2 linked regions of the Homo sapiens genome follow. The protein of the gene in region 1 purifies or fractionates together with the protein of each later gene. This does not show direct contact. Each region holds a gene or a part of one and is shown in the gene's direction. Other genes may lie near its edges. The genes, in order: UBXN2B and FAM89A.

What was found.
Region 2: the proteins of UBXN2B (region 1) and FAM89A purify together in Homo sapiens (affinity purification with mass spectrometry; 2 studies listed by BioGRID and IntAct, with this or other methods). This does not show direct contact.

Annotation. Positions count from the first base shown.
Region 1 is NC_000008.11:58,409,856-58,414,230, forward strand, and holds the start of UBXN2B (UBX domain-containing protein 2B), read left to right. Parts: upstream 1-1,505; 5' UTR 1,506-1,530; coding exon 1,531-1,614; intron 1,615-4,375. UniProt on the Homo sapiens protein: Adapter protein required for Golgi and endoplasmic reticulum biogenesis. Involved in Golgi and endoplasmic reticulum maintenance during interphase and in their reassembly at the end of mitosis.
Region 2 is NC_000001.11:231,020,809-231,023,527, reverse strand, and holds part of FAM89A (protein FAM89A), read left to right. Parts: intron 1-2,719.

The DNA of each region.
Region 1 (4,375 bases):
AGCCTCAAATGCCTTTATACATCAAAACGATCAGTATGCCAAAGCTCGGGCGGCAAGCTGTCGACTCCAGCACCTAGCATGGTGCACACAGCAGATACCAACGGAGTATTTCCCCTCACATGGCTCACATTTCCTTTGTAACCCTCCCAAGCAAAGCTCTACTGCAAGCTGCATCTTACCCGTTTACATGTCTCTTTTCCCTACTAGACTGAGTTTCATAATGACTGGGACTATTTCTTTTTACCTTTGCATCCCTTGGGCATAAAAGTGCCTAGGAGGCCAGGCGCAGTGGCTCACGCCTGTAATCCCAGCACTTTGGGAGGCCGAGGTGGGCAGATCATGAGGTCAGGAGATCAAGACCATCCTGGCCAACATGGTGAAACCCCGTCTTTACTAAAAATACAAAAGTTAGCCGGGCATGGCGGCACGCACCTGTAGTCCAAGCTACTCGGGAGGCTGAGGCAGGAGAATTGCTTGAACCCGGGAGGTGGAGGCTGCAGTGAGCCGAGGTCGCGCCACTGCACTCCAGCTTGGGCGACAGAGCGAGGCTCCGTCTCAAAAACAAAAAGTGCCTAGGATAAGAAGACCAGAGTCTAAATCAATTTCAGTTGAATGACGAGGGCTTGATAGTCTCGAGATCTGCTTTTTTTCTTTTTTGAGACGGATCCTCCCTGTGTCGCCAGGCTGGAGTGCAGTGGCGCGATCTCGGCTCACTGCAACCTCCGACTCCCTGATTCAAGCGATTCTCCTGCCTCAGTCTCCCCAGTAGCTCGGACTACAGGCACGCTCCGCCACGCCCAGCTAATTTTTGTGTATATATATATATATATATGTGTATATATATGTATATATATGTGTATATATATATGTGTGTGTATATATGTGTATATATATATGTGTGTGTATATATATATATATATATATATATATATATATTTTTTTTTTTAGTAGAGAAGGGGTTTCACCATGTTGGCCAGGATGGTCTCGATCACCTCGTCCGCCTCGGCCTCCCAAAGTGCTGGGACTACAGGCGTGAGCCACAGGCCCGGCAGAGTTCTGCTTTTAGCAAATTATTCCAAGCACTTTTTACGGTGTTTTTCACTCTCAGTGCTAATTCACGCTGTGGTGACGATGTACCATCCAATCCTTGATAGGAAAGATCAGAGAATCTGACCAAGACTAGATGGAGAGGTTGCAATTTTTCATCAGATGAAAAATCCAGAGGATGTTTTCATTGTTGAGCTAAATGAATCTGCAAGTCTATGCTGCCCTCTAGGGCGGCCTACAGTGCCTTTAGGCGAGTAGCAGGAGCAACACAAAACTTAACAGAGGTTTCCCTGCGGAGAAACTCCCTTTAAGAAAAAAGGAGAAACCAAAAAGGTGGGCCAGCACCGGAAGCGGGGGCGCGGGTTCGGGTAGCGGGGACGCGCACGCACCTTGCGCGTCTTCGCCCCTCCTGCGGTTGCCAGGCAACCGGCCCCGGAAGTTGCGGCAGGTGCGTCCGCAGCGGGCGCCGCTAGCCAGCGGAAGATGGCGGAGGGCGGAGGCCCTGAGCCCGGCGAGCAGGAGAGGAGGTCTTCCGGGCCGCGGCCTCCGAGCGCGCGGGATTTGCAGGTGAGGCGAGGAGCCGGGGGAGGGAGCGCGGCGGTGGACGCGGGCTGGTGACGGCGCGGGCTGGTGCGAGTTGGAGGCCACCTCTGGCCTCGGCGGAGCCTTTCCCCGACCCCGTCTGGGGATAGAATCCGGCGCCCGGTCTCCCGATGTCGGGTCTTGACACTGTGGTGGTCGTGAACACAAGTGCCCAAGCCTCCAGCGCTGGTGCTTTGTCTCCCTTCCACCCCACGTATGATGTAAAAATAGCTATTCGTTTAGAATGACATTTTGCGGGGTCAGTTGGTCGGTTCACGGGTTGATGCTTCCTTCTTGAGACTTACTCCAGAAGAAAGGTTACTGTGGCCGCAGGGAAGTAGACAGTCACCTGAACAGTAATGATACGTGATTTGTTCTTTTTTGTCTTGGATGCTATTTCTGACTTGCTTACTTAAATATAAAAATGGTTCCATTTTATCAGGTAGGTTTTTCTTTTAAAGGGGTGAAGGAAAGCGATGCACTCTATGCCCATACAGCCTAGTTGTCTAAGCTGTGGTCTTTAAAACATTGCACTGAAGAAACTGGGAAATAAAATTTCGTAATGTTGTGTAGGACACTAGTATTAGTTAGCTAAATAGTAGCGCACCAAATCCCGTTTTATCAGATACTAACGCCACTTTTCTCATTTTAGGCGTTTTTGTGTCTCATTATAAGATTATTGATAAAAATTTGACAAGTAAATATCAGTAAGGAGATACTAAGGAGAATCTTGGTAGAACAGTTTTACTGTATTACTTTACAACCACACTTCATTCTAATGTGAACAAACCACCATCCATTGTAACATACTGCTGAGCTTTGCGAATGTGGAAATAAGGACATCAAATCCTTAGTCGGTGCTGAACTCTATTGATGGGTAGGTATGTAAGTGTAAAAGACAGTTCTACCTTTTGGAAGCCTACAGATTTCTTCGGAGAAATAGGGTATGAATACTTAGCATAACATTTTAAGATGGAGTATGATTGGGTGCCAAAATAAGCAGTGCATAAAGCGAAGAATTTGGAGGCTGGAGAGATCAGTGTAACATTAGGAGGTGAACTTAATGTAGAATAGTTCCAGCTCCCATAGTTGGTTCAGTAGTAGTAAACAGTATCAAGGGATAGGAAGCTATTGTGTACCTCATCTTTCCTATTATAAACCCACATCACTAAGAGGCAGCATGGAGTTAGTAGTCCCACCAATTTTGGTTTGCCTCTTAGTCCTGCTACTTAGTAGTTTTGTGAACTTAGGAGAAATGTCTTAACCTGTCTGATCCTGTGTCTTCATTTGTAAACTGAGGAAGGTCAGGGTGCTGGTGGTGGTGTAAGGATTAAATAATGTTATAAAGGGCCTATGCAAAATTCCTACATTATCCTGGCTCAGTTGTTGCTGGGCAAATATTTGATTCCTTTTTCCTCAGGAGAAAGATGCTATAACTTTCCCTGGCTAGTCAATTCTAATATCATTAAAGTTAATAGAGTGTGTAACTTAATGTCCTTTCCCTAATTTAAATCCATTTCTTCTTTTTATGTGAAAAGTGAGAACAGCTTGCTTAATGACCACCTGATTCTTGGCAAATTGTTTGCAGTCTTAATCCAGTGGATCAAAGTACGATTAATGTTTGGAGATACTCTGGTAGATGTTGCTAATTGTGAGAATGCCTTCATTTCCACCCTAAGTTATGATGGGGATTTTTTTTTTCATCTCCTGTCTACTTGTTGTAGGTTAGGGCAGTAGGAAGATAACTGATTTCTTTATGAATGTGATTTGGTGTATCAAGTACAGTATCTAAGTATTGATAATCTTTCCTTTAGAACTTAATATGAATGTGAAGAACTTGCAAAGAAACTTGAAAACAGCCAAAGGGATGGCATATCAAGAAATAAAGTATGTATCAAAAGTTTAAAAGAATTAAATAATGTTCTTCCCAAATGGTACCTTGGATATTGATTATTTATAGATTATCTTGTTACCGTTTAATCTAGACATGCTTTTCTTAAGAGTTACGCAGTTCGTGCAGCTTTCAGTAGATATTTCTTACTTCCCTAACAGCTTGCTCTAAGAGTCTTTCAGAGTGAGTAAAGGGGCAACATATTACCAATTGGAACAAGCAGAATTACCCCTGAGTAAGTGTATCTTAGCTGCCATGCAGTGTAGGGTTTGTCAGCATCTGAATCAGGAGGGAGTGTTCCAGGTACCACCAGAGAAAAGCTGCATAGTTGCTTCCCAAAAGGCCTCCCAGCCCTGGGAGCCCCCAGGTTACAAACTGCAGACTCGGAAATGTTTTTTTGCATATCAGAGTAGATTTTCATAGCTCCCTTCATCCCCCTCAAATAAGGAGATGGTCATGGGGAAAGTTAGGGGTGGGATTGTTAGTGGCAAAACTAAGCCCAAAACCTCACCAGTGTTCAATAGTATTTCTGAATTGCTTTCTCTTCTGGTGTCCCTCAGCCCGCCACACACATGTTCATTAAGGTATTTAGTTGTATACTCTGTCCCAGTTTTCCTCCACATATTATCTGTTTCTACATAGGTTGGACGGGGAGGGAGTGGGAACAGGGATAACTTCAGTATTGTTAGGGTTAGGATTGGATTTGTTAGGATGGACTCAATAGTGGGTACTATAAATGAGAAGAATTAAAATGTCTGATAGCTGTTCTGATAACTGTGTTGCCACAAGTACCCTAATCATATTGAATGTCATTATTCTGTATCGTTGATTCTCTAGTATGCATCTGTGACCTGG
Region 2 (2,719 bases), on another chromosome or scaffold:
TTTCCCACCCTGAAGATGTTTCACACGAAAAGGCTGTTTGTTTTGCTTGAAGCCCTCTGAGGAAGGAGGGCAGCGGAAGAGGAGGCATGCCGGCACTGTAAGGCCTCTCTCGTTAGCCACCGCCAGGCCCTGTGCTGTCAGGGGCAGCTTGGGCCACTTTGCTGCCCCTGAGCGAACCTGAGGCTCCCACCTACCTGTGGAGTGAAGGAGAGGTTGTCCTCTGGGCCCCTGTTTCACCAGTCATAACCTATGGAGCAGTCAAAGGCCCAAAGCATCCAAGCCCAGTGGGCTTCTGAAATAAACGGCACGGGGTTGGGAAGGATGAGAAAGCCAAGTCAGGTGGGCCAGGTTCTCCGAACATGGGGCAACAGTGACCTGGGCAAAAGGCTGGAACTGAGCGGCTGATAAGGCCACAATTACTGCCACCACCTCTCAGTATCTACACGGGGGGCAGATGTTAGGCAGTGGGAACTGAGGACTGGAGGGCGTGTGGCAAACACCGGATGGATTTTATCAGAAAAGAGAGGACACCCAAACATGTGCCTGTCCTATTTATCTTGCATGTCCTGTGCCAGGTGAAGGACGCTGGAGCATGGGTAAGGTTCCTGAGAACAACTGGTGGGCAGAAATGGGCTGGGATGGGCACTGCTCCACAGGCAACATTAAGCCTCTGAGGGGGACACTAATAGTGCTACATCTGGTGGGCTGCTGAAAAGTAGGTAACGAATGGCCTTTATTGCACTTTTTCATTCTTAGGAAACGGGATTGCCCTGCAGAGCTTCTCTTGATTTGCAGAAATCACTGCAGATCAATGATAAGGTGCAGGCAGAATCACGGGTGACCTCTGACTCTCAAGGGAAGAAGTCCAGTGATTGGTCTTTTCAGGGCCTCAAGGGGCCACTCTTGCACCTGGGATCCTCGAGCTGGGTGAACCGGGTCTGGCTTGGTCAATGTGTGGCAGGCAGATTGGTCGACCGGCAGACACTTGGGACAAAAGGTGGTGTGCCCGGGAAAGCTGGGGCAAACTTTCCAAACGGAAAATTTCTTGGCAAATGTGCAGGTTCTGCAACCAGACTGGAACCACGATTCCCAGTGTGCCTGACTCCCTTTCTCTCACTCTAGAACTGGACCACCCCAGAGGAACAGAGATGGCCTGGGAGGGCCCTGGGTCCAGCGCCATAGCATCAAACTGGAGATAACAAAAGGAAGGGGTTGGAAACAAAAGAGCAGTTTACATATCAGACGTGGGTTTCAAAACAGTCTTTTTGAGCTCAGGAAAATGGAGGCAGATACCACTGGAGAACCTGATTGTCCATCCGTCTCTCCTGGGCGTCTCTGAATACTTCATATATGAATGGAGTGGTACTGTTTGTGGTTGATCTTTTTCCTACAAGTTGGGCAAGTATTAGCGTTCTTCAGGGAATCACGGAGGCACTGGCTACAGAAGACATGGCCACATTCTGTGGAAACGATGAGACGTCTATTCTGCACGATCTCTGAATATCTGTCCATGCAGATAGGACAACCGACAGTACCCGAGGGCCTGAGGCCTATAGCGCCCTCATCCCTGGTGTTTCTGGAAGTGTGGGTAGTCACATACACGTCTCTGTCCCTGGACAACAACTCATCGTCACTGCTCACCATGCAGCTGTCAGCATGGTCCTGGGGCAGCCTCCTAGCATTCCTCCTTGGTCTTCTTCTTTTGTCAACAATCACAACAGAGTCATTGTGAGTCAGATCAACCACCACAGGCTCTAAAGATTCACAAGTGAGGTCAACAATTTCATCTCCAGCAGTTTCCACGAGTTCTATGGGTTCTGCTTCCAAGGAAATCTCAGGGGTGGAGGTTGCTTCCCGTGTTCGCTTCTGGGCTTGTCTAGAATTTATTGCTCCACCTCGACGCTTTCTTGTACTCATTGTGCTCTTTGGTGCCTTTCGTTTCCTAACAGAAAAGGAAGTGATCTATACCAAGGTTTGCAGGGAAGTCGAATGTTCTCAACCTTTCGTGCCCTCTGGTTAATCATCTGGCTTGCAAAAGAATTTGGATCGGGACAGATTTCCAGTATTTTAAAGTCCTGGAGCTAGTTAGGTCTGCAGGCGCTGCCACCGGCGCACTCCAGAGAAGAAGCTCCTTCTCCAGCCGCCCAGGAGAGCTGTACCCATGCATCTTTAGTGCTTTAGCCCGGGAGGCATTAGAATCCTGTTTATTGAGTGGATTGATATTGAATTGCCCTAATAGCTCCATAAGAGAAATTATTGTTCCATTTTGCCATCAACCAAGGCACGGAGATGAAGGTGATAAATACCTTGCTCAGGGGCCAAGAAGCCGAAGGCAGGTCCCCTGGTGTCTTCTTGAGTTTCTTCCCGTTGCCATTCAGAGCAGGGTCTGTGGAACAGCAGCATAGCACGGAATCACCATAGGGGCTTGGTGGAAGCACAGCCATCCAGTGGCCCCAGACCCACTGAATCAGAGTCTGCTTGTTGAACAAGATCCCCGGGTGGTTCTCATGCACTTTAAAGGTTAAGAGGCACCGATGCTGGTCTATGCTGCATTTCCAAGAGGCTTAACTGTTCTCTCTTTGGTATTGGTGTAAACGATGCATTTCCTGTTCTGACTGTGACCGTGCTCTTTTCTCTGGGATGGGTGGTGGGGGAGGGAGGAACTGGAAGATAAACAAGTATATGACTTTTATAAATGTTCTGTGTTCTTTTGCTGCTT